Regions from separate parts of the Homo sapiens genome. Here region 1 is linked to region 2. Evidence: fine-mapped expression QTL. A gene starts in region 2. The other region holds a variant in brackets. All regions are shown on one strand. Distances are between the middles of the regions. Region 1 overlaps LY9 (lymphocyte antigen 9). Region 2 holds the start of LY9 (lymphocyte antigen 9).

What was found. PIP is the estimated chance that this variant, and not a neighbour inherited with it, causes the effect. A credible set is the group of variants that fine-mapping cannot tell apart.
Region 1: its variant is the best candidate, but not a certain one, in a credible set for the expression of LY9 in blood mononuclear cells (TOPMed, PIP 0.56).

The regions. Positions count from the first base shown.
Region 1 is chr1:160,814,573-160,827,884 of GRCh38, reverse strand. LY9 (lymphocyte antigen 9) reads right to left here. Exons shown (of 10, transcript NM_002348.4): 4 at 13,124-13,312; 5 at 11,022-11,291; 6 at 9,566-9,667; 7 at 8,511-8,564; 8 at 4,089-4,420; 9 at 3,636-3,704; 10 at 1-137. The coding sequence ends at 69. Among named protein-coding and RNA genes, the nearest start is that of LY9, 25 kb to the right of the region's middle. The variant T/C (reference allele first, on the strand shown) is at 4,115.
Region 2 is chr1:160,787,034-160,801,307 of GRCh38, reverse strand. LY9 (lymphocyte antigen 9) reads right to left here and starts at 5,134. Exons shown (of 10, transcript NM_002348.4): 1 at 4,997-5,134; 2 at 1,226-1,555. The coding sequence starts at 5,120. It overlaps LOC105371470 (a long non-coding RNA gene), which reads left to right and starts at 11,446. Exons shown (of 3, transcript NR_188636.1): 1 at 11,446-11,513. RefSeq lists enhancers at 10,967-11,086, 11,117-11,186, 11,237-11,356 and a silencer at 11,687-11,879.

The DNA of each region.
Region 1 (13,312 bases), 27 kb before region 2:
GCCCCATGAGGTCCAGCTGACTTTCCAACCCCACGGTCCCAGGAGAGAGGCAGCAGCTGCTTTTCCTTTCAGGTGAAATTTTCATAGGTAGGACTTTCAGGAATCTCAAGATCATTCTGTTGTGGTGGTGGCACCACCTGTGAGCCAAAAATCCACAAAAGAATATGGTTAATAAAGCCTTGGAAGAGTGAGGCTGATGAAAGAGGAAGGCAAGGCCAGGCTATGACTGGTCCATCCTACAGAAGTAGAGTCATATGTGCTGGCCCAGGGATGGCGCAATCAACCAGCCTGATGCCAAGCATTTATGGAGGCTCCTAATAGGAAAGGCTGTGGGCTGGACTCTCTGCAAGGACAACACAAGACAGTTTAGTGCAGCAAATCCAGGGGATAAAAAAATGACAATGAAGGGGCTTGCCCTCACGAAGCTACTGTCAAATGATTCCAATCTCTGCCCTAGCTGGAGAAACAAAACGAACATTTATAAGAAGATAATTTAGATGGCAGAGGTTAAGTTCCAAAGTAATGGTCCAGACCATTAGTCCCCAAGCTGTTCCCAAGGGTTCTTAGGCTTCCCTGTCTGAGAGTGTTCAGGGAAGGCTCTAAAGAGCAGATAAGCTCTGTGCTGACCCAGAGGAGCGGGAGGTTGGGTACCAGCAACAGCTTGGGGATAGCATAAACCTTTGAGATGTTGTACAGAGAGGTATATCAGAAATAAGAACTAAAGTAGGTTTGAGAATTTCCAGATCAAGTAGGCAATAATGGCCTTCAGAGATCCAAAACCAGAATTCCTGGTCCTGACAATTCTGAAGACAAAAGATATAGTTGTCAAGAGTTTGGCTCAGGAAATGCAATGATTTCAACTTACACTGTAAGTGAGGTGGTTTCAGGGGTCTCAGTCTCCAGGGTAGTGTGTGTGCCTTGCAGGACTGACCAGACATGTGGTGGTCATTCTGAAACTCAGAGCAGGGACTGACTTTAAGTTTGACCGGTATTGACCCAAACACAAAGGGCCAGGCCAGAGTAGAAAGCAGCTCTGGGAATGCAGTGAACAGCACAGATTTGGCCTTAGGTTCCAAGGCAAAGTCTCTAGCTGGCTAAGCATTAGACTACTGTCTAGAAGTCAGGATGAGATGGATGATGGTTGAACCAAACCACACATCCCAACAAGTGTTTACTGAGCAAATTCTATCCATCTTTTAAGGCCCAACCCAAATTCCTTTTTCATGATGTGTTTCCTCTTTACCACAGTGCAGTGATATCCCCCACCTTCAGCTTCTGAAAAACCCTTAGGAACTGTGCATACAATTTATTAAGTAGTCAAGTAACTTTAACCCATTTACGCAGGAGGTTGCAATTTTTTGAATTTGTGCATGAGTGAAAAATCAGACCCTGGTGATGATCTTGAGCAGTAGAATATAAATAACTCCTACACGCTTAGTGTTCCAATAATGGAACACCAGGCATAAGTGCAACATATGTTTGAACTGCATGGCCACTTATATGCAGATTTTTTTTCAATAAACATCACACTGAGTGTGCCTGCCTCTCCTGCCTCCCCTTTTACCTCCTCTACCTCTTTTACCTCTACCACTCTTGAAAGAACAAGACCAACCCTTCCTCTTCCTCCTCAGCCTACTCAATGTGAAGGTGAGGATGAAGACCTTTACAATGATCCAATTCCACTTAATGAATAGTATACATATTTTATCTTCCTTATGATTTTCTTAATAATTTCTTTTCTCTAGCTTACTTTATTGTAAGAATACAGTATATAATACACGTAACATGCAAAATATGTGTTAATCAAATGTTTATGTTTTTGGTAAGGCTTCTGGTCAACAGTAGGCTGTTAGTAGTTAAGTTCTGGAGAGTCAAAGTTATAGAATGATTTTTGATTGCATGGAGTGGGGTGGGGTTGGCACTCCTAAACCCCTGAATTGTTCAAGGGTCAACTGTAGTCTTTTCTTTTTTTTTGAGATGGAGTTTTGCTCTTGTTGCCCAGGCTGGAGTGCAATGGTGTGATCTCTGCTCACCGCAACCTCCACCTCCTGGGTTCAAGCAATTCTCCTGCCTCAGCCTCCTGAGTAGCTGGGATTACAGGTGCCTGCCACCACATTCAGGTAATTTTAATATTTTTAGTAGAGATGGGGTTTTACCATGTTGGCCAGGCTGGTCTTGAACTCCTGACCTCAGGTGATCCACCTGCCTCGGCCTCCCAAAGTGCTGGGATTACAGGCATGAGCCACCACGCCCAGCCGAGAGTTTTTTAAAAAATATTTTTTTGAATATGTTATAGGGAGGGAATTTGGGGGAGATTTGAAAGCAAAAGTATGAATGGACACGATGTTTTCAGGAAAGTGAAAATGAAATGGACAGCCAGATCAAGGTGAATTATTTAAGATTACTCAGGATGATCTTAAAACGCCTCATGGTTCTTAATACTGGAACTTCCAAGTACTATCTTTGTCACCTTAGGCAAAATTAACTTCCTTGAATCTGTTTCTTTGGCTATAAAATGTGGATGACAACACTTTTCTAGAAGTATTACAAAGATCAAAGAAGAATGTGTATCAAGGTATTGTAACTGCAAAACTTCATATAAAAGCAAGTCAGTTATTATTATCATTATGATTATTTAATGATAAATTCTACCTGTAAGGGATTTTTTTTTTTTTTTAAGACATGGTCTCACTCTGTCACCCAGGCTAGATTTCAGTGGCATGATCTTGGCTCACTGCAGCCTTGAACTCCCCGGCTCAAGCGGTCCTCCCACTTAAGTGTCCTAAGTAGCTGGGACTACAGGTGTGTACCACCACAGGCCTGGGTAATTTTTTTTGAACTTTTTATAAAGACAGGGTTTCACCATGTTGCCCAGGCTGGGAATTTTTTTTTTTTTTTTTTTTTTGAGATGGAGTCTTGTTCTGTTGCCCAGGCTGGAGTGCAGTGGCACGAACTTGGCTCACTGTAAGCTCTGCCTCCTGGGTTCACGCCATTCTCCTGCCTCAGTCTCTGAGTAGTTGGAACTACAGGCGCCTGCCACCACGCCTGGCTAATTTTTTTTGTATTTTTAGTAGAGACGGAGTTTCACCATGTTAGCCAGGATGGTCTCCATCTCCTGACCTTGTGATCCACCCGCCTTGGCCTCCCAAAGTGCTGGGATTACAGGTATGAGCCACCGCGCCCGGCTGGGATTTTTTTAAACACTAGAATAAAACTAATGTACTGTAGGTGGTGGTGTATTTTCCAAAAATTCTTGTTGTTAAATTGTTAGCTAATTTTCAATGGTTTTGAGAAGTTGTCATTTAGGTAGATTAGGATTAGGGTTAGAGATAGATTTAAAAAGCTATAAAGACCCTACCTTGTTTGAGTGTATAAGCTGTCATTCAGGTCAGTGTTAAAAATAACCAACATAAGATATTATTAAATCAATTAGAAATGTTCAGCCTTTGGTCACACAGATGTCAGGAATATTTGTTTATGCATCTCTGTTGACCATGGAATGTATCTGAGGGGTGCATAGTGGGTAGAATTTAAGATCCTTAGCCATGGGAATCTCGGATTTTCAGTTCAAAGGGTCTAAGGAATAGTTCCTCACTCTGTGGGCCTTGGGATACAGAGAATGTAGTTCTCACCACCTGAGGTTTCCGTATGGAGCAGTAGATTGTGGCTGAGCTCTCTTCCTTCTGAGAAACTGGGGTCTTTCCCTGTAACACACCAACAGCAGATGAGCCCTAGTGACCACATGAGAGCTTTTCAGTTTTACCCTCAACCCTTGAGGAGAGGGGATACCCCCTGGCTTCCCATCTCACACACAGGGTGGGAGCTGCCTTAGTGCAGTGGGGACGGTGCCTCTGGTTCTCCAACACCTTCCTTATTAGTGGCCCAAGAATGAGAGCTGAGGGACAAGTCCCTCGTTCCACAGGATCCCAAGGTTTGGTAAACATGGACACAGCCATGAGTCCCTGCCCGTATGCCCCTAGTCCTGTTTCCAGGCCCCAGCCCCCAGTTTGGAGGAACTAGTCATCCAGGATCTCAGATGCCGCTAGACATGGGAGGAGGAGGAAGGTGTATTGATCAGAAGGGCTCACCTGTAAGTTGAACACTTGTGCATACA[T/C]GGTGTTCTCTCCAACCACAGACTCAACTTCCGTGACATATGGAGTGACGGGATCATAGTCTGCTTGGCCCTCAGGGGCTGGGTCATGTCCAGCGCCCTCCTGAGTGACCTGGTCAAATACCTCATATCTTCCACTGATGGGCTTGTGCACCTCAGGCCTGTCCTCATCCTCCTCAGTTGTGAGGTTGCTGTCAGAGCTGCTGTCTGAGGTGGGTGTAGGCTGTTGCCTGGCAGGCCTGAGGGGAGTGTCCAGCTTCTCATATCCTTGGGAGAGCACAGAGTATAGCGTGTGGCCAGCTGTGGGTTCTGGAACACATTGTGCAGGGCTGATAAAAGTATGCCAACCCCACCTCTCTTCTTGCTTTGCTGCAAGGCCCCAGCCTGCTCTGATGCCTGCATTAGATGAGGCCTAGAGAACCGAAGGAGATTGTTTTGTCCTGTCTTCCCTCAGGGGGTCCATTCCACTCTCCCTTCCTCCTTCCTTTCAAGCATTCATTTATTCATTCATTTGATAAATATTAAATATGACATGTGATAGACTTTAGCAACTCTCTGGCCCTGTGGGATAAACCATGCCAAGCATCATTGCAGGTACTCTGGGGAAACACAAAGGTAAATTAGACCTGGCCCTGGAGGAGCACCCTGTCTAGCTGGGGAGTCAGGTGCATGTGTAAATCAGTAATGTAAGGCCAGCTTTGCCAAGTATCCTATGGAACGTATGAGGAAAGTGCAGAGTTGAGAGGAGATGACTCTGGTTAGAGAAGCAGAGAGGAACTCATGAAAGTGGCAGAATTGAGGTGGGTCTTGAATAGGGATTCAATATTTCGATGAGTGGAAGGGTATTCTAGGTGGAGGAGGGAACAGCATGATTAGAGGCAGGTGTAAAGCCTGGAGCAGTCTCTTTTTCCGAAAGGATGATATTAAAAATACTTAACAATTGCAATGGTCAGGCCTTAGGCAATCAGCATGGGCACCTGTGAACAGTGGCATGGTGGATGCGCTGTGAGGGCCGGTGTGGCCCACTGGGTGGATATGCTGTGAACGCTGTCATGGCACACTGGGTGGATGTCAACCCTGCCTGTGGGGCACATGAAGTAGCCCATTTTGATACAGGAGTTAAGAAGAAATTACTTAGGCAGATAGTAAGGATATGGGAGTCCTTGGTCAGGCTTTTCTTTTTATTGAAAAGCAGCCCCAAATCATTTTCTAACAAAGAGCAGCCTGCAAGCTGGGAGCTTGCATGGGTGAACACCAGCAGGGACTAAGGAATAGACATTTTCAAAATGGCGGCTCCATCTTCCCTTCCCTGCCAGCCACTGTATTGAAAGGAGCAGATAAGATGGTGCCAATAAACTGGAAAATCCATTTGCATAAGAAGATTAGGGTGCGGCAACCAGCCTTTCCCAGGCACTACGTAAACGTCATGCCTTATCGAACCAATCTGTGAGCCCTAGGTAAATCAGACACCGCCTCCTCAAACTGGACTATAGAACTCAGCGCATTCACCAGCAGCCGGTCCCCACCCCTCTGAGACCCCTTCCTCTATAGAGGAAGCTGTTTCTCTTTTTCTTTTCTTCTACTTATTGAACGTCCGCTCCTAAACTCCTCCTGTGTGTCTGTGTCCTAAACTTTCCCGGCACGCGAGGACAAACCCTGAGTTTATATCTCAGACAACATAGCCCCTTCAATTTGACCTGATGCTCATATTTAGTAAGTGCCTACCGTGTGCGAGGCACAGTTCTAAATGCTTTTCATGAATAAGTTTATTTAGTCTGCCTAAAACCCCATGAAGCATAGACAATAACTATCCGTATTTATTTTTTGTAGATGAGGAAACTCGGGCACGTAAAGATTAAGTATTTTCCCGAGTAAGTGGTAGGGCCAGGATTTGACTACAGCTAGTCTTGTCCCTGATGCTCTTAACCGCTGCTCAATCCTGCCCCCTCCCGGCTGGCCCCTCTTTCTCTTTCGCTCAATACTGAGTGAAAATAGATACCTTCATTTTGGAAGGTAAGGAAACTGAGGCTTAGGGATTCATAAGGAGGAGAGCTAGGGTTTGAGCACAGGGTTATCCTACCTCAGAACCCATACACTTGACCACTTGGTTATATCGCCTTTTGAACAGACAAAGGCCATTAGGGGCTATTGAGGGTTTTAGAGAAGTCAGAGTTGAGCTTGGCAAAGTGATGAGAGGAAATAGTCTGCAAAGAAACTATTAGCATATTTTAGGAAAGAAGTAACAAGGAATGAGAATGTCTGTTAATAAGGACTGGTAAAGTAAATTAGTTAAACAAATGTGTAGAATGGAATAAATGGGAATCAGTTTTAATCTACAAACATTAATATTGCTGGGATGTACTGTTAAGATCAAAAAGCAAGGTTTAGAAAAAAAGTGTTATAGATTGCTCCCATATGTGAAGTTAAAGGAACACCCTCCCCACACAAATATGTATGAAACCTGCAAATGCATTAAAAGTTTCTGAAAGGATTCAGGTCTGTAGAAATCTCAGCAGTGGTTGTCTCTTGGGGGAGAGACTTAGAACCTGGAGATGGAATTTGGAAAGAGAACTACTTTTAACTGTATGCCATGTGAATATATGGTTTTTTTTTTTTTTTTTTAGCAAAGTTTCACTTTTTTTGCCCAGGTTGGAGTGCAATGGTGCAGTCTCAGCTCACTGCAACCTCTGCCTTCCAGGTTCAAGTGATTCTCCTGCCTCAGCCTCCAGAGTAGCTGGGATTACAGGCATGTGCCACCATGCCTGGCTAATTTTTATATTTTTGGTAGAGACGGGGTTTCACCATGTTGGCCAGGCTGGTCTTGAATTCCTGACCTCAGGTGATCTACCTGCCTCAGCCTCCCAAAGTACTGGGATTATAGGCGTGAGCCACCGTGCCCAGTCTGACTTTTGAATTAAAAAAAAAAAAAAACTATTCAATTAAACAACAAATTGGTGACAACATGAACTAAGGCAGTGGCAGTGGATCTAGGGAAGAGGAGACCTTGGAGAGGTTAAAGAAGCAGGCCTTGGAGGTTCAAGAAGGGTTCTGGGGGAGAGAAGAGGTAGGGAGGTGGTGGTGGCCCCAACATCTCTTTACCCTCTGCCCAAGGAAGGAGGGTTCAGGCAGGGGGACACCAGGGCTCTGTCCTGTCAGTAGTGAGGAGGGAGCTGATGGGGAGCTTCATAGTCCAGCCTAATTCCCTTCCTTGCCCCCTGTCTCTTGGTTATGCTTTTCCATCAGAAGAGCCCATATCGTCACATGCTCCCTGCCCAGTCCTGCCTCTGATTCCATCTCCATGGGGAATCCCTGCCATGAGGGGTGACATATAGTTTTATTTTTTATTTATTTATTTATTTTTTAAAGCAGGATTTGGTTAGAGTGAGCACAGGTTGGGGATTCCTTAGCACTCCAGAGCTCCAGAGTTTAAGGTGAAATTTTAGGACACTGTGGCATGGGAGTGGGGGAGTAAAGGCAGGCATCTCAGCTCCCCACACTAAAACCTGTCAGAGCAGTTCCATTTCCCACGATGCTCTTAGGTAATAGGTTGTACAGTCTCCTGAAGTTTAATTTTAATTAAGTTTTAAATTTTTTTCTACCACAGATGTACTGTTCCATCTGGCCTTTGTTTCTCTGTTCTCAGAATGGAGACAATAACTCCATCCTCATTGTAGTCCACATTCAAATGGTGAATGGCTAATGCCCAAGGAACCCTAGAGACCCTGGGGGACAGACTGCCTCTCCTAGCTCTGGTGACCATCTCTAAGGAGTCTATCTTGGCTTTTGTTTCTATGCTACCTTCCTTTTCAAACTTCAGTAGGCATATGAATCACTTATGGATCTTGTTAAAATACAGGTTTGGAATCAGTATTCTGGGGTGATGCCCAAGATTCCCTCCCTCCCTCCCTCCCTCCCTCCCTTCCTTCCTTCCTTCCTTTCTTTCTCTCTCTTTCTTTCTCTTTCTGTTTTTTTTTTTTTTTTTTGAGACAGAGTCTTGCCCTGTTGCCCAGACTGTAGTGCAGTGGCGTGATCTAGGCTGACTGCAACCTCCACCTCCCAGGTTAAATAGATTCTCATGCCTCAGCCTCCCGAGTAGCTGGGATTACAGGCGTGCACCACCATGCCCAGATAATTTTTTCTATTTTTAGTAGAGACAGGGTTTCACTTTGTTGGCCAGGCTGGTCTTGAACTCCTGGCCTCAAGTGATCTACCTGCCTCAGCCTCCCGAAGTGCTGGGATTACAGGTGTGAGCCACGGCACCTGGTCAGATTTTGCATTTCTAACAAGTTTCCTGGGTGATGCCCACACTGCTGGCCAGCAGACCACACTTTGAGCAGCAAGACTTTAGAACTTCCATTTGGACCAGATACCCCATAGCCTGTGTCATGGGTGATGTTACCTGGTGTATCCGCTGGGGCCTCAGCTTGGCTGGAACAGAAGGCTGGGACTGAACCTGAGAAACAAAGTTAGAGAAGGTTTATCAAGAGGGCTGTGAGGTGAGAGGTGTCTTTTATTCTGTGAGAGTCAAATGAGAAGGGGAGAGACTTCTGGGACATAGACAGGGAAAAGGCTTCAGGAAGGAGGATGAACCCTGATGAGAAGCCAGGCCTATGTGAAGGGGTGGCCAGAGTCTAGGGCTACTTTCTGCAGAGGTGGAGGCTCTGGAGCTTCCTGCCATCCCTCCAGAAGAGAGAGCTCCTCTGCCATAGCCACTGATCAGAGTAGTTTGCCTGCAATTCAGTAATTCTTCCAGGGACCCCATGTGTTCTACCCATTCTGCTCTTTTTGGCTACTACTTCATTTCCACTCCAATACTGGGATTCTAGAGGAGCTGCCAATCATAATAGTGTATCTTCTTGGCTATAGAAATTGGTCCAAGCAGCAGCCACATGACCTTAACTTGGGCCAATCAGAGCTATTTCTGACATTCTTTAAATTGGAGTTAGAGGGAAGCACATTTTCTTCCCTGTCTGGTGTCGGAGCTGTTAGTATGTGTGGGTCTGGAGCTGCCAGCTGTTGTGTTGTGGTACACTCCTCCCCTCGCTCCCACCCCTTCCCTCAGCGGGCTGCAGTAGGAAGAGTTAAGCTGACTCAAAATACACAGTAGAGATGAAAGGTGGAGAGCTCTGATGACTTTTGAGCCTCTGGTGACATTTCTCCATTATGCCAGCTCTATCCCTGCCTTCCCCACAGATTGATTATTTAAGTGAAAAAATAATAAATCACTCTCCCTGCTCCCACATGCCTTTTTTTTTCTGTCTAAGCCAGTTTGAACTGGGCTTCTATTATTTGTGAGTAAAGAGTCCCAACTGACACCCCTCCCCCATTGCTCTGAGAAGAAATAAGATGCTGGCAGGGAGGGGTAGCACGGGATTGTGTGAGGGCAGAGAAGCCTCCACAAGTCCCAGGGAAATGGCCTAGCACTGGCGGACAACATTGATCTCGGAAACTCACACCGTCCTTTTCGCTTCCAAATGCACCAGCTGAAGATCCCAACGCACAGAAGGCAAACCATCAGGAACAACCCAATCCAAAGCTTTGTGTTTCTCTCAGGTCCTTTGAGGAGGAAATGAGTGATGTTAATTCAAATAATGACAAGACACACTGGAGCAAACAATGCACAGAACATGATGGCCATCCTACCTGCCCCTTAAAATCCATGACGTTGTGGAAAGTCTTTCTTTTCATTCATTCTACAACCATTTTTCGAGCAAGCATTACTCTAGGCAAGAGGTTATAGCAGTACCTGAGGCAGACAGTCCCTGGGTAGAGAGGTTTACGGCTTGCCCAGTGTCACAGTGTTTCAAGTGTCTGACCTGAGGTTCGAGTGCAGATCCTACAGCGCCCTTAATCGCCACATTACACTGCCCCGCTGTAAATGATATGAGGGGAGTTCCAGATTCCTGTTAAGCTGGACTCTAGATCTGTCTGCCAGACACAATCTGACCCAACATTGTCAGATCCTGGGTAGACCGTACCTTTTTTCTGCTTCCTTCTACGGAAGAGCAGAAGATAGAGCTCAGGGTTCGAAACCAGCTTTTATGGTGTGACCTTGGATAAGTCCCTTATCTTTTCTGAGCCTCAGTTTCTTTATCCATATAAAGGGGAAAAACGAGAATATCTACTCTGTAGGATTGTTGCGAAGATTGTGCAAAAATGCCTGAAGGCCTAGAATAGTACTTAGCATTTATTAAGGGCCACTGGGGCTTCTTTTCTAGCTCCCACTCACGCAGCCTTTGTTCCTGTGTGGTCCACATCCCTTTCCATATCAGCTTCCTATTGGCTTTTCTCCACAAGCCTGTAACTCTGTGCTGTTCAATATGGTAGCCACAAGCTATGCATAAGCCCTTGAAGTGTGGCTAGTATTACTGAGACACCAAATTGCTTCTTTTATTTAGTTTTAGTTTAAATTTAAAAATGGCTACTCAATTCCTTCTTGAAAAACTGATAAATATGCTTGGAATAACTTGGGTGCATAAATCTATTTTTTCAACTGTAAATTTTACGAAGTCTGAATATAGATTAAACACTTTCAGTGAAAATTTAGCATCGGAATCGAGACGTGCTCTAAGTGTAAAATACATACTGGCTCTCAAAGACTTAGTACAAAATAAAATGTAGTGTCTAATGAATTTTTTTGTATTGAATACACGTTGAATAATGATATTTTGGATATATTCAGTTAAATAAAACATATTATTAAAATAACTTTATTTCTTCTTGCTTTTTCTAACGTGGCTATTAGAACATTAAAATCACATGCGTGACTCTCATATATCTGTGGAAGCATGCCACTCTAAAGGGCTCTCACCCACAGCCTCTTACTGCACTTCATAAAGAATCAGTCAGGATGCAAACTCTTGGAGGCCCCAAGGTCCTGTGACCTGAGTAAATAGAGATGGAGAGAAACCTGAACAGATGTTCTCAGAAAGAAACTGGTGGGAACTCCTGCTGACAGGGTTGCTGGCTGTGCATGTGAGGTTGGGGTGATTTTCACTGCTTCTCCATGAGACATTGAGGTGTGATTCCCCTTGGGACACAACAGCTTCCTTCTGCAGCGGGGTCCATGTGTACATGACAGTGTTTCCCCCGTCCTCCACGGAGCAGGTCAGGCTGATCCTGCAGATGCCATCCTCACTGTGCCTGAGGCTCCACGTGATTTTGGGCTTCCTCAGCCTGCCTGTGAGGAGAGAGGCAGACTCCATGTGGAATCAGGCCTGCCCCCTGAGCAGTCACCTGTCTTCATTCATTGAAAATATATTCATGAAGCTGAGTGTTGATACTGCCGGCAAAGTGCCTCCAGGAGCCACAGGAATTTTGGAGTATACCTGGCATTTTCCTCACTACTTGTGACATCTCAGACACACCTCTTTGCCTCTTGATGCTCAGGTGAGAAACAAGGGAAATGATGAAAAGTGAAGAAAGAAAGACACAACCTCATTCTATACAGTTAGTTACAGCTGTGAAAGCAAGCAAACCAATCAACACAGATGAGCGCAACACTTCCATGTGCTGTGAAGACCCTTCAAGGCTTGGCTTTGAGGCTGATTTGTTTACTTATATGAGATAAGGGATGCAGAGAGGTGAGCGCTGTACCTGACACAGAGTAAATGTTCAATAAATGTTAGCAACTTTAAAAGAAACAATAAGACTGACTCTATTTGTTTCCTGTTTATTATTTTTACTTAACCTTGTGGGTTCCTTTATATTTGAGGCATTGTGTGCAATAGGCATGGACTTGGCCGACTTGCTTCATATTTTAACAAAACCATGATAGTGACTCTTCACAGATACCTAGACATTGACAAACTCAGGCAGGGGGTATGCTGACCATGTCTGAATGGCACAAGTGAAGGAACAGGTAAACATAAACCATGCAAATTGCCAAGCCAAGCTCCTGTGAGGCCCAGGGCTGAGGAGGTAGAATGCAAATTCTGTTCCTCACCCCCAGGGGAACTGAGTGGCCCACCTTCTTGGAGGCCACAGTGTCTTTGGACACCAAGGGCTTCTCCTCAGTCTTCTCTGATTTCACCCCAGCCAACTTTGGCCTTATTCAAAATGATAATAGTTTATAAAAATGCAGGTTGGGGCCAGGTGCCATGGCTCATGCCTGTAATCCCAGCACTTTGGGAGGCTGAGGCAGCGGATCACCTGAGGTCAGGAGTTTGAGACTTGCCTGGCCAATATGGCAAAACCCTATCTCTACTAAAAGTACAAAAATTAGCTGGTTGTGGTGGCGTGTGCCTGTAGTCCCAGCTACTTGGGAGGCTGAGGCAGAAGAATCCCTTGAACTTGGTAGTCAGAGGTTGCAGTGAGCTGAGATCGTGCCACTGTACTCCAGCCTGGGTGACAGAGCATGACTCCATCTCAAAAATTTAAAAATGCAGGTTGGTGAGTTCCCAGTCCCTTTGTTTTGTTTTGTTTTGTTTTTTTTAGACGGAGTCTTGCTCTTTCTCTCAGGCTGGAGTGAAGTGGCATGATCTCGGCTCACTGAAACCTCCGCCCCTTGGGGTTCGAGCGATTTTCCTGCCTCAGCCTCTAGAGTAGCTTGGATTACAGGCGCCCACCACCGAACCCAGCTAATTTTTGTGTTTTTAGTAGAGACGGGGTTTACCATGTTGGCCAGCCTGGTCTCAAATTCCTGACCTCAGGTGATTCACCTGCCTCAGCCTCCCAAAGTACCGGGATTATAGGTGTGAGCCACCGCACCTGGCCTCCTAGTCCCTTCTGACACTCAGTGCAGAAGGACCGGGGCAAGCACCTAAAGTTGGGTGGTGGAGGCCTAACTGGCAGCCTAGAGCCAGGGGCACTTTGGCGGGTAGACTTGTCCAGCAGCTAGTCATGAGTTTGCCTCCTATGAATCAACTGGTGTGAACTGAACAGCTGTCCTAGTGGTCTGAGGCATTTCAGTATGAGGGAAGACCCTTGGAGAAGCGGAAGGTGGAGAAGGCAGCAGAGGAGAAAGCTTTCAGAGAAGGAATCTGGTGATGGGTGCCCTGCCCAGAGACTCACGGTAGATGAGCAGGGTGACATGTGTCATGCTGGTGACGCTGGAGGCCTCTGAGCACACGTAGGCATGGTAGGGGCCGGCGTCCTCTATCTTCAGCTGGCTGATCTTCAGGGAGCAGTCCTGGCTGGAGACCCACACCCTGTTCTTGTAAGGATCCCTGGATTTAATGAGTGGATCTGCCGTTGCTGCTT
Region 2 (14,274 bases):
TATCTGAGAAATACAAATCAAAATCACAATGAGATATTATCTCACTCCAGTCAGAATGGCTGTTATTTAAACACTAACCACATGTTGGCAGGATGTGGAGAAAAGGGGAAATCTTAGACACTCTTGGTGGGGATGGAAACCAGTACAGCCACTATGCAAAACAATATGAAGATTTCTCAAAAAACTAAACATTTAATTAGCATTTGATCCAGTAATACCACTACTGGATATCTACCCAAAGGAAAAGAAAAGAAATTGATATATGCAAGGAATACCTGCATTTGTATGTTTATTGCAGCACTATTCTCAATAGCAAAGATATAGAATTAATCTGTGTCCCTTAGCGGAAGAATGGATAAAGAAAATGCAGTATACACATACATACATGTATTTATACACATCATGGAATACTAATCAGCCACAAAAGAATGAAGTCATGTCTTTTGCAGCACCATGGATGAAACTGGAGGCCATTATCCTAGCTGAAATAACTCAGAAACAGAAAGTAAAATACCACACGTTCTCACCTATAAGTGGAAGCAATGGGTACACATGGACATACAGAGTAGGAATAATGGATAGCGGAGCCTACAAGAGGTAGGAGGGTGGGAGAGGAGTGAGGGCTGAAAAATTATCTATTGAGTACAATGGTCACTCTTTGGGTGATGGGTGCACTAAAAGCCCAGACTTCCCCAGCATGCAATATGTGCATGCAATAAATCTACACTTGTACCCCCTAAATATATTTAAACAATTTAAAAATCCATAAAAAAGAATGAAATCATGTCTTTTGCAGCAATGTGGCTGAAACTGGAGGTCATTATCTTAAGTTAAATAAGCTAGGCACAAAAAGACACATATCGCATGTTCTCACTTATATGTTGGTACTAAAAATTTTGATCATGTGGAAGTGGATGGTGGAAAGATAGATAGCAGAGACTGAGAAGGGTGAGTGTGGGGAGTGGGTGGTGGGGGGATGATGAAGAGAAGTGGGTTAAAGGGTACAAACATACAGTAAGATAGAGAAAATCAATTCAATTTTTGATAGCAGAGTAGGGTGACTATACTTAACAGGAATATATTGTACTCAGGCAGCAGACACACTGAAAACTCTGACTTGATCAGTATGCACTATATACATATAACAAAATTTCACACATACCCCATAAATTTGCACAAATAAAAAAAAGAAAAGATCAAAACACAGAAGCTCTCTGGAACTCACCATAGACGAACAGGGTGAATTCCTCCTCAGTGGTGACTTCAAAATTCCTTTGGTTTATCTGGGCTTTGTAGGATCCTGCATCATTCAGAGTCAGATTGCTGATGCACAGGGAGTAACTCCACTTGGTGATGTCTAGTCGGCCCAGGTAGCTTTTGACCATAATGGTTACATTTTCTTTGGGACGTGCGAAAGCAAGAGCATTTTTGGGACCAATCCAGATGACGTTCTCAATCTCTGTGTCTACTGAGATGTTTAGGGGGAGAGTCACGGAACCCCCTAGGATCCCTGACACCACTGTTGGGGCTGAGTCCTTTCCAGAGGCTCTTAGTCCTGCAGAGATAGAAGAGGGACTTGGAGGAGCAGCTAGACTCCTTGAGCTAGCCTTCTTTCTTTCACTCTGTGAATATACATTGGGCATAAATGTCAGATGCTGAGAAATGAAATGAGATTCTTGTCCTCCTTCTTCTAGGTCAATTGCCTAGCACAGTCATTAATTCCTCCATTCCCCAAACACTGTCTCCCTTAAAAGCAGCCACAACAATCTGTGAAACAGATCTTCTGGGTTTCTGTTCCAGTAGAGGAATTAGCCTTGTGACTTTGGGTACATTTCTGAATTTTTCAGTGAATCTTATCTAAAAGATTGAAATGCTCATACCTGCACCATTTTCTTCAAGGGATATGGTAAAAATGAAATGAAAGCAGGTTGCTGCAAATTGTGAAGAGCCAATGAAGTAAAAAGGAGCATATTTTTAAAAATATGGGTGGGTAGAGGGATGGTTAGATGGGCAGGCGAGTGATAAAGCAAGCAAAGTAAAACGTTTGTGTTAGAATCTAGGTAGTAGGCCTATGAATGTTCAGGGTAAATGCTCCAACTTTTCTGAATGTTTGAGAACTCTCATAGCAGTGTCGGGAACTAAAGGAGCTTCTCCTACCTCTACCTCACCCTTATTGTCCATGGCATCTCAGATTGACTTTGGTTTGGCCAGGTTTGGGGGTGGGAATAGCTGGTGGTACTAATACAGTTCCTGATTTCCTCATCTTAGGCAAGATCATATTCCTGATAAACATTGTTACCAAGGCATCTAGGAAGCTGGTATTTGGCCAAGGCAGTTAATTTTCTTGTAGGGACCCTGTGGGTGTCTTCTGGGTGACCCTAGCTTGGATTCCCAGATTCCAGGGCTTCCGAGGCTCTGGAGAGCACTTTTGAAATTCTAGACCAAAACAGATGGGTTTGGGACCCAGACTCCACCAGGAATTCTGGGTGGGAAAATAAGTAGAAAATGTTAGAGACAAAAAAGGAGCATAAGCATAGCCTGGAGGGGCGGAAGAAAGCTGAAGCAAGCTCTGAAAACCCAGAGGATACAGAATATGCAGACACTGGAAGGAGAGAGGCTGCTTGGTGCAGGTCATGGGGGTTCTCTGCTTAGACCTCCATCAGCCAAGCACTTGCACCTTGTGGAGAGGCAGCTATGGAGCATGCAGGGCTAGGGATCCTGGACATGAGAAGGTTGGGTCAGGTGGATTCTTTAGGCAGATTCAGGCTGAGTTGATGTGAGGTTGGTTTGAGGTTTTCTAAAAGAGAGCTCTTCCCATCTGGAAGAGACTGCTTACGATTGCTATGTGTGCATTAGGTACTTTATGTAAATTATCTCATTTAATTCTCATAACTATACTATAATTAGCCCCTTTTTACAGATGAGGAGCTGAAATTTAGAGAATTTAATCCACTTCCCTGAGATTACAGGGTTGATCAGTCACAGAGTCCAGATCCTATGTCCATGATGCCCCTGGAGTAGGGAGGCCAGGAGTACTGCCCATCTGTATCCTGGAAGCCCAGGAGCTGCTGGGTCTTGACTGGGTGCATATGACTCGTTTTGACTTCAAATTTTCTTACATCAGACAAAAACCATAAACAAAAGCCTCACAGACTCTCAGTGGAGGGGGCAGGATGTGGGCCTCACAGGGCAAATCTTGTTGCAGAAGACAGTGCAATGCAGCTCCCAGTACAATGACAGGTCCCCAGTACCAGTCATTTTATTTTGAATTGCACCGTAGGACAAATAATAAAAGAGCATTCAAAGATTGCAAAACTGAATTTGACTCACCTGTCTCTTAATAGTTTCCAAAGAATGCACGTAACAGTAATTATAATAATAACAATCATAGCTTCTGCCAACTATGTGCCACTATACGTGTGTGTGTGTGTGTGTGTGTGTGTGTATAGATCATCTACAATCTGTAAGAGTGTTGCATGATGCATCCTACTAACTATATTTTACACTTAAGAAATAGAGGCCCTCATCACTAATAAATGATGGAGCAATGATTTAATTTCAGATGTTCCTGATACTAAAGTGAGAGGGGTCTTTTCACTCGACTGCCTTTTAAGTTCCTGAAATGACTCTTTGGAGATACAAAAGCATCATCCTTTCAGACCAAAAGAGTGAGATTTGAGGTCATCCTAATCAGTGGAGCCAGACCAATGGAGATGCCTCTTTGCTCTGAACTGTTTGAAATTCACTGCATTGATCATTTGCGGCTTGGATGACCTTGAATGTAGCTTATTTCAGGTTTGCTCAACACAATCAAGGAACACCCCAAAGGTTGGAGGTAAACATAAACAGCCTTGCTGCTTTCTGTGTGTTTTGATGAGCCAAGATAAAATTGAAAGTGAAAAGAGGTCAGACTGGACCTCAGCTCTGAGGTCTAGGCTCCTCGTTCACCCATATCTGCATCTAGGAGTGTTTCTAAAGCTCCCTTCAGGCACCAACTGCCAACCCCCACTGCTCTCAGATCTCTAGTGCTACCTGCACCATCATCCCTGAAGCCCTGGAGAAAGCGGGAGCACAGAAGGACAGTAGCTGCCACAGTCCCAGGTGGCTGAGATCCTCTCTGGGGTACTGGATTGGCTCTATCTGCTGGACAGTGGGGTTCCGGGCCATGCAGCGGAGAGATGTTTCCCAGGAGTTGGGCCTTGATAGGGAGGAATAAGGTTGAGGAGAAAAGGATATCCAGATAAACGCCACCTTGCCCATGGTCACCTAACCGCGTCCAGGTCCCCAGTGAAACCTCAGTAATAAAGCCAGCATATATGATAACCAAGGCAGGATACATAGAAAGAAGCTCCAGAAGTTCTCTCCATCCCTAGGAAATTGCTAGGTGGCTTCTCATCAGGGGATTTTCCTGGATCCCTCTGTGGGTTTTATCCACACCATACAGGGAACAAACTCATTATATACTTGGCATTTCTTAGGAAAATGTGAGGGCAAGAGAAATGTAGTTTGAGCCCAGAGCTATTTGAGACCGGGGCTAGAATGTTACCCCCTTCATAGTGCACGAATATGCACACATGCAAAGTAATTTCTGGCAAGGAGATGAGTTTCCCGATTTTACCAACAAGAACTGGGCTCACGCCTGTAATCCCAGCACTTCAGGTGGCTGAGCTGGGCAGATCACGAGGTCAAGAGATCGAGACCACCGTGGCCAACATAGTGAAACCCTGCCCCTACTAAAAATACAAAGATTAGCTGGGTGTGTTGGCATGCACCTGTAATCCCAGCTACTCAAGAGGCTGAGGTAGGAGAATCGCTTGAACCCAGGAGGTGGAGGTTGCAGTGAGCCGAGATTGCGCCACTTCACTCCAGCCTGGCAACAGAGTGAGACTCCGTTAAAAAAAACAAAAAACAAAAAAAAGAATCTCCCAGGCAGGGAATGCAACTGGCCTCAGAAGAACCGCAGTAGCAAGAAGTGGTGGCCATAAAGTGGACTTACCCATGAGCAGGAAGAGGAGAGAGGTCTGTAGAACAGAAGAGAATATTTGCAGCTGACTCCTCTGTGGCTTACTGGAGAAAGGCCCAGGAGCCCAGTCATCTGTGTGACTCTTTGGTGCCACCATGATGATCTATTTTCAGAACTGAGACTGAAGGAGGATGCACTTACCACAGCTTCCGCACGTGTCACAGCTTCTGCATGTGTATATGAGTGTGTGTGTGCATGTGTATGTGTATGTGTGTGTGTCTCAGAGGGAGGGTTGTTTATACAAAACACCACAGACTCCTCCCATCTGCGCAGGCAGGTAGAGGTCCCAAGTCTATTCAGGGCCTCATTTGTGACTGATGTGGAGCATCACTTGCTTTGACATCAAGGGACTTGGGTTCTAAATTTGGCTCCTAAAGGTGACTGCTAAAGATCTGTACCTCCTGGCATTCATGCCTCTGTGTAATCACCTCTTCTTTAGTGTGGCCTGGATTTAGTGACTTGCTTCAAGTGAATAGAATGTGGCAGAGATGTGGGATGGGTCACTTCTGAGATTAGGTTACAAAAAAGCTGTGACTTCCATCTTGGGTTAGCATGTGTGTGCATATGCGCTCTCTCTTTCTCTTGCCCTCTCTCCCTCTCTGTCTTTCCCACTATCTCTGTCTCCCTACCTTACACTGAGGGGAGCCAGGTATTGTTTTGTGAGATACTTTAGGGAGAGGGTTCCAAAACAAAGAACAGAGGGAGGCCCCCAGCCAACAATCGGCGAGGAGCTGATTCCTCTGGCCAACTGTCCATGAGGACTGAGGCTAGCCAAGAATCACATGAGTGAGACTGGAAGTGGATCCTCCCCAGGAGGTCCTTGAAATGACTGCAGCCCTGGCTGACACCGTGATGTTAGTTGTGTGAGTACCTTAAGCCAGAGGCACCCAGCTAAGCCATGCCCAGATTCCTTATCAAGAGAAACTGTGAGATAATAAATGTTTGGTTTTTAAATTTTTTTTCAATTTTTTATTTTTCATCAAAAATGCTTATTGTTTTTAGCTGTGAAGTTTGGGGCAATTTGTTACACAGCAACAGATAACTAATACAGTGACCCAATACATTTTCTATTTTGCTCAAGGCAGTTTGTGCTAGCTTTCTGTCACATGCAATGAAGGACTTTTAATATGGACAAAGGCATCAGGGAGACTGCAATGGGGGTGGACATCGTATGTGACAGCGTAGAGGTGACTGAGTTGAAAAGGTAGGCTGGAGAATGGCATGATTCCCTATATCCTGACTTGGGAAACTGTCTTTTTCTCCTCCTTCTTCTTGTCAGTAGCGTAATAGCTGGCCATGCTATGGTTTGTGTTTCGGGCTTCAGGTCATTTGTTTACTTAGGCTGTAACATTAAGGGGACTTGGCAGGAAAACTTGAGGCTGGCAGAATGTGTAGTTTTAGCTAATATTCGATGAAAGCTTACAGAGTGCTAGTCCATCTTCTGACACTTTAACATATTCACTCATTTGATCTTACAATAGTTTTATGAGATATCTTTTATCATCCCCATTCTATAAATGAGAAAACTGAGGTGGAGAGGGGTTAAATAGCTTACTATAAGTTTTATAGTTAGTAAGGACTTGAACCCAGGAAGTCTGGGTTCAAAGGAAGAAGGGAGAGAGAGAGAGAAACCATTAAGATAACAGGCTTATGTCCATGGAAAGCATCTTTAGAGGCTGGTCATGATCTGATGTTGCACAATATTGAAAGTGACAGAATCTCGAAAATCTTTAAATTTTGTGCACTAGGAGCGTGTCTTGTTTCACTCTAGCCTTGGTCCTGTGACTAGAACATGGGCTGTCTAGAGGGGATTGCAGGACATACGGTCAGGAGAGGTTACCAGAGCCCAGATAAAGCATCCTGTTACCAAGCTAAAGGCAACAAGAATCCAGTAGGAGTAGGAAGCTTCCTGGAGCTGCAGAGTGGAGGGAGAATGGGTGGAAGGGATGAGCCTGGGGATGAGAAGACAGGTGCGGAAGCTATTGAAGGAGTCTGGGTACAGAACATGAGAGCAGGAACAGTCTGCATGGGAGGCGAGGGCAAAGGCAGAAGGGAATTCAGAGAGATTGGTAATAATAAAAATCATTACTAACATTTATTGGGTAATTACTATGAGTGAGCCTCTGTGTTTAGAACTTTACATATGTTTTCTCCTTTAATCCTAAGATAGACCCTATTTGGATGATACTCCAATTATCCCCATTTTAGAGATGAGAAAACTGAGATTTAGGAAAGTAACATCACTGAAATGACCTCCTTTGAAGTTGTGACCATAGGAGGACACAGCCTTATAATACACAAAATCCAATTTAAGTATTATCATTTAAGTATAGTAAAACCTAAATTAATATAAATTTTGGTATGATGCATTTGTTAAGTGTGCCCTGTCCTCACATGGGGAGGGCTAATATTCTCATCAGGACAGGGAGGCAAAGGCACTAGCATTGGGAATCAGGGAGCAACATCCAGTGATGCTGGCCCCGGCGTCTCCAGTGTTGTCCTTCTCAGTATACTTCAACCACCCCAGCAAGTGGGTGTGACTGACTGGAAAATTTTTGAAATCCCTGCTACTGTCCTTGGAGTCCCGCCAGCTACAGGCCCAGAATCACCCCTGTCAACTGGGCATTGCCTCCAGGTAGCATCAGACTCCAGCCTGGGTTGAGATTTGGGTCTGGCAGCCACAACCACATACTCAGCTGTGTTGCTTCACCACCAGCCCCCAACCAACACTTCATTCACTGTGCAATTAAGACGACCCTGCATTTTACACAATTGCATTTTTTGGACTTTATTTCTAATGTTGTCTTGACTTGCAGTATATATATGCTACTACAGATTGGAAGAATATGAAAGACTGTAGAATTTTGACAAGCTCAAAGCTTTTTACACTTAGATGGAAAGACAAATATATGTTAGGAGCTAAAGAAATTCAACATCAAATCAACTGCTGCAGCCACAGTAGAGGGAAGAATTAGGGAATGTCACAGTGTTCAAGTGGAATCTAGGGATATAGGCTATGAGACCAGCCTTTTAGAGGGTAGCAACAAAACAAGCAAAAAGTGGTGCTGCCAGCTGGGCACATTGGCTCACGCCTGTAATCTCAGCACTTTGGGAGGCCGAGGTGGGCAGATCACGTGAGGTCAGGAGCTCAGGACCAGCCTGACCAATATGGAGAAACCCTGTCTCTATTAAAAATACAAAATTATTGGGAGGCGGAGGCGGGCGGATCACGATGTCAGGAGATCGAGACCATCCTGGCTAACATGGTGAAACCCCGTCTCTACTAAAAAAAAAAAACAAAAAACAAAAAAACAAAATTAGCCGGGTGTGGTGGCACGCGCCTGTAATCCCAGCTACTGGGGAGGCTGAGGAAGGAGAATCGCTTGAACCTGGGAGGCGGAGGTTGCGGTGAGCCGAGATTGTGCCATTGCACTGCAGCCTGGGCAACAAGAGCGAAACTCCACCTCAAAAAAAAAGGGGTGCTGGTAATACCATTAGTTAACATGTCAGTGATATTTCTGGTCATTAAGCAACTTTAGCTAATTGAGAAGGTACCCCAGGAAATGGCTGTAAATGGGATGACATAATTGTTTCTTTTGTGGTTATGAATCTTTCAATCCTGGGAAAATAAGGAATACAAAATAGACATGTTCAAGGTAATCAGTTAGTATTTTTTAAGTATATGTATTGTTTGAGGAAATTTAGTTCATTAAAATTGTAGTAAACTTTGTTGCCACGGTTTGAATGTATTTGTCCCTCCAAAATTCATATGTTGGAAACTTTTTTTTTTTTAATGAGATGGAGTCTCACTCTATCACCCAGGTTGGAGTGTAGTGGTGCAATCTCAGCTCACTGCAACCTTTGCCTCTTGGGTTCAAGTGATTCTCCTGCCTCAGACTCCCGAGTAGCTGGGACTACAGGCACGTGCCACCACACCTGACTAATTTTGTATTTTTAGTAGAGACAGGGTTTCACTATGTTGGCCAGGCTGGTCTCGAACTCCCAACCACAGGTAATCCACCTGCCTCGGCCTCCCAAAGTGCTGGGATTACAGGTGTGAGCCACTGTGCCTGTCCTATATGTTGGAACTTAAACCCCAAAGCGATAGTATTGAGAGGTGGGGCCTTTTGGGAAATGATTAAGTCATGAGCACTCTGCTTTCATATATGGGATTAATGCCCTTATAAAAGAGACTTCAAAGAGTTATCTGGCCCTTTCTTGCCCTTCCACTATTCTGCCATGTGAAGACAGTGTTCATCTCCTCTGGAGGATGCAGCAACAAGGCCCCACCTTGGAAGCACAGAGTGAGCCCTAACCAGACCGAGAGTCTGCTGGCACCTTGATCTTGGACTTCCCAGCTTGCAGAACCATAAGAAATAAATTTCCACTACTTATAAATTGCCCAGTTTAAGATATTTTTGTTATAGCAGCCAGAATGAACTGAGATATTTGTGTTTCTGATTTAAACTATGCAATTGATTTACATTTGTGCATTTGTGATTTTAGTTGGAAATCTTAATTTACATGAAGAATTGAATAATTTAAGACAACTTAAGAATGACCACACTTAGAAGTTTAATGTATTAGGTTTACAAGCCTTTAAGTATTTGGGAAGTTTATTTGCTGATTAAAATACTTTAAAACAAAACTAAATATATTACATTTATAAGTTAGAATAATAAGGGAATCAACTTATAAATTTGTAAAATGAGTCAAATTATTATTATTATTATTATTTTACTTTTGAGACAGGATGTTGCTCTGTGACCAAGGCTGAAGTGCAGTGGTACGATCTCGGCTCACTACAACCTTTACTTCCCTGCTCAAGCGATCCTCCAGCCTCAGCCTCCTGAGTAGCTGGGACCACAGTCATGAGCCACCATGCCCGGCTCATTTTTGTATTTCTTGTAGAGATGGGGTTTCGCCATGTTGCTCAGGCTGGTCTCGAACTCCTGAGCTCGAAGTGATCCACTTGCCTCGGCCTCCCAAAGTGCTAGGATTCCAGGTGTGAGCCACCATGCCTGGCCATGAGTTAAATCTTATTAATAGTCCTCAAGAAGGGTAGTTAAAATTTGCCTAATTTGTAAGCAGAACAGTAAGATTTGTAAGCTGAACTGAACTTAAGGCTGACTTAGGTTTTAAATTTATTTATTTAATAAATTGAATATGAGTTCTTAAAAGCAATATGGCCTATGAATAAATTTTTATGTGCAAAAACCATCTTCAAGGAAATAAATTATAAAGGAGAACTCCTAACTCTCATTGATTGGCAGGTAGTTTGCCTAGGTCACACAACTAGCAAGCAGCAGAGGCAGTATTCAAACCAGAAAGCCTCATGCCCAACACACTGTACCCAACCAGAAAGTAAAACCACCTGCATTACTTTATTTTTTATTGACATAAATTTTCTTTCCCACTAGACTGTAAGCAACACGGTTGCAGACACTTCCTTTCATCTCTGTATCCCCAGTCCTTAGCACAGAGCTTTTGTGGCACCTAGCAGGAACTCAACGAATATGCATTGAGTGAAGGAGAGAAGAGAACCCGGGGGGAACGGTATCCTGGCGTCCAGGAGGAGAGAGTATTTCAAGTGTCAAATGCCACAGGCAGTTGTATTAGCCAGGGATCTTCAGAGAAACCACACCTTGAATATATATATTGTTTCCTTTTTTCTCTTTTAATAGGAATTGGCTCACATGATCATGGAGGCTGAGAAGTCTCATGATCTGGTGACTGCAAGCTGGAGTACCAGGGAAGCTGGTGGTGTAGGTCCCGGTCTGAGTCAGAAGGCCTGAGAACTGGGAGGCTGGTAGTACAAGTGTCCTGACCCATAACCACAGGCCTGATGTCCAACAGCAAGAGGGAATGGATGTCCTAGCACCATCCTAGCCTGGGGCTTCAGGGAGGCCTTTCCCAAGGTGGTGATGACTGGAGATGGGCAATAGGAGGGTGTTAGGGTGAGGTAGATGACAGAGACTAGGGCAATCCAATCAGTAAGATGGCCTGAGGAAGTAGAGCTGCATTTACAAAAATGAGAAATCCCAAGGGGACTGCTTTAGAAGCAGTCTGTGGTGACTGGAGTCCAAGCTGTGAGACTTGGTGACAGAGTGTGGCCAGGTAGGTTGGCAAGACACAAGCCAATCATGAAGGGCCTTGTCCACAAGGACTTTGACCCCGGACTTTAGCCTTGTGGGGGTGGTACACCCCCGAGGGGTTTAAAGCAAGGCTGTGATGTCACCGGCGTTGGCTTTTAAGTAGCTCGTTCAGGCGCTTCTCATCCTTCTTTCTTTTGCGTCCGCTCATCTTCATATCTTGTGACACATAAACTACATGTGATTAAAGTGGTGACACTAAAAACAGGAACTGGTAGTAGGCTGACATTTACGCATGCATAGTCCGTCATCTGCTGCCATGTGACAAGCAGTTCTGCAGGTGCACTTTATGGCCCATTCTCTACCATGGTTGTTGCTCCTCCTTGGTCTTTTCATAGGTAAGTCCACCCCTCCACTGCCTCCCAGGCTCGTCTATTTGCTGCGTACACTGGTTTACTCTAGGAATGTGCAATTTTCATTGAGGTGCTGCCTCTATGGGAGCCAGGCTCTGTGTGTGCGTGTGTGTGTGTGTGTATGTGTGCGCACGTGCGCGTGGGTGCGTAAGTCTGTGCGCATGTGCTATAACCTCAGGTCACGCAGCTCTAGACGGTGTCCTTGTGACCCTCACATCTCTTTGACTAATGTATCACAAGGAGCCTGAGCATTTCCAGAGAGGCTGAATTGTGGAGGCATGAGATGGAGGATCAGCCACAGTCAGTTCCAAGACGCATGTAGTCTGCAGCATGTCATTTCAGTCATGTTTCCAGAGATGTCCAGGTTTTTAAAGACCTGTGGTGATGTAGTGCCTTGGGATTTGTGTTTTGTATCTGGTTCTCTTGCATCTCTTTCCCCTTCCTCCCTCTCCTGCCAGCCGCTGGGAGTCACCCTTCACCCTGAGTTGGGCCTTTCATGTCCCATAAGTGGTTTCAGTGGGGGAGCTCAAGCCTGGCACACTGGTAATTCCTGTCCCTGTGGATTCTCACTGCTCACCTCTAAGAACCTGACAGATGACAGGGGGATGGGCCTGGGACTTGGAGGCTAGGGGAACACAGATCTTGAGATATTCATGATGAGGGGACAGGTTCTGCTCTTAGTCTCCAGAGTTTCAAGCTTTCACTTTTATTCTCCATCAGGAGAAAACCAGCACGTTCTGTTCTTTTTTTTTTAATTATACTTTAAGTTTTAGGGTACATGTGCACAATGTGCAGGTTAATTACATTTGTATACATGTGACATGCTGGTGCGCTGCACCCACTAACTCGTCATCTAGCATTAGGTATATCTCCCAATGCTATCCCTCCCCCCTCCCCCCACCCCACAACAGTCCCCAGAGTGTGATGTTCCCCTTCCTGTGTCCATGTGTTCTCATTGTTCAATTCCCACCTATGAGTGAGAATATGCGGTGTTTGGTTTTTTCTTCTTGCGATAGTTTACTGAGAATGATGATTTCCAATTTCATCCATGTCCCTACAAAGAACATGAACTCATCATTTTTTATGGCTGCATAGTATTCCATGGTGTATATGTGCCACATTTTCTTAATCCAGTCTATCATTGTTGGACATTTGGGTTGGTTCCAAGTCTTTGCTATTGTGAATAGTGCCGCAGTAAACATACGTGTGCATGTGTCTTTATAGCAGCATGAATTATAGTCCTTTGGGTATATACCCAGTAATGGGATGGCTGGGTCAAATGGTATTTCTGTTTCTAGATCCCTGAGGAATCATCACACTGACTTCCACAATGGTTGAACTAGTTTACAGTCCCACCAACAGTGTAAAAGTGTTCCTGTGTCTGTTCATGTCCTTCACCCACTTTTTGATGGGGTTGTTTGTTTTTTTCTTGTAAATTTGTTTGAGTTCATTGCAGATTCTGGATATTAGTCCTTTGTCAGATGAGTATGTTGCAAAAACTTTCTCCCATTTTGTGGGTTGCCTGTTCACTCTGATGGTAGTTTCTTTTGCTGTGCAGAAGCTCTTTAGTTTAATTAGATCCCATTTGTCAATTTTGGCTTTTGTTGCCATTGCTTTTGGTGTTTTAGACATGAAGTCCTTGCCCGTGCCTATGTCCTGAATGGTAATGCCTAGGTTTTCTTCTAGGGTTTTTATGGTTTTAGGTTTAACGTTTAAGTCTTTAATCCATCTTGAATTGATTTTTGTATAAGGTGTAAGGAAGGGATCCAGTTTCAGCTTTCTACATATGGCTAGCCAGTTTTCCCAGCACCATTTATTAAATAGGGAATCCTTTCCCCATTGCTTGTTTTTGTCAGGTTTGTCAAAGATCAGATAGTTGTAGATATGCGGCGTTATTTCTGAGGGCTCTGTTCTGTTCCATTGATCTATATCTCTGTTTTGGTACCAGTACCATGCTGTTTTGGTTACTGTAGCCTTGTAGCATAGTTTGAAGTCAGGTAGCATGATGCCTCCAGCTTTGTTCTTTTGGCTTAGGATTGACTTGGCGATGCGGGCTCTTTTTTGGTTCCATATGAACTTTAAAGTAGTTTTTTCCAATTCTGTGAAGAAAGTCATTGGTAGCTTGATGGGGATGGCATTGAATCTATAAATTACCTTGGACAGTATGGCCATTTTCATGATATTGATTCTTCCTACCCATGAGCATGGAATGTTCTTCCATTTGTTTTTATCCTCTTTTATTTCCTTGAGCAGTGGTTTGTAGTTCTCCTTGAAGAGGTCCTTCACGTCCCTTGTAAGGTGGATTCCTAGGTATTTTATTCTCTTTGAAGCAATTGTGAATGGGAGTTCACTCATGATTTGGCTCTCTGTTTGTCTGTTATTGGTGTATAAGAATGCTTGTGATTTTTACACATTGATTTTGTATCCTGAGACTTTGCTGAAGTTGCTTATCAGCTTAATGAGATTTTGGGCTGAGACAATGGGGTTTTCTAGATATACAATCATGTCATCTGCAAACAGGGATAATTTGACTTCCTCTTTTCCTAATTGAATACCCTTTATTTCCTTCTCCTGCCTAATTGCCCTGGCCAGAACTTCCAACACTATGTTGAATAGGAGTGGTGAGAGAGGGCATCCCTGTCTTGTGCCAGTTTTCAAAGGGAATGCTTCCAGTTTTTGCCCATTCAGTGTGATATTGGCTGTGGGTTTGTCATAGATAGCTCTTATTATTTTGAGATACATCCCA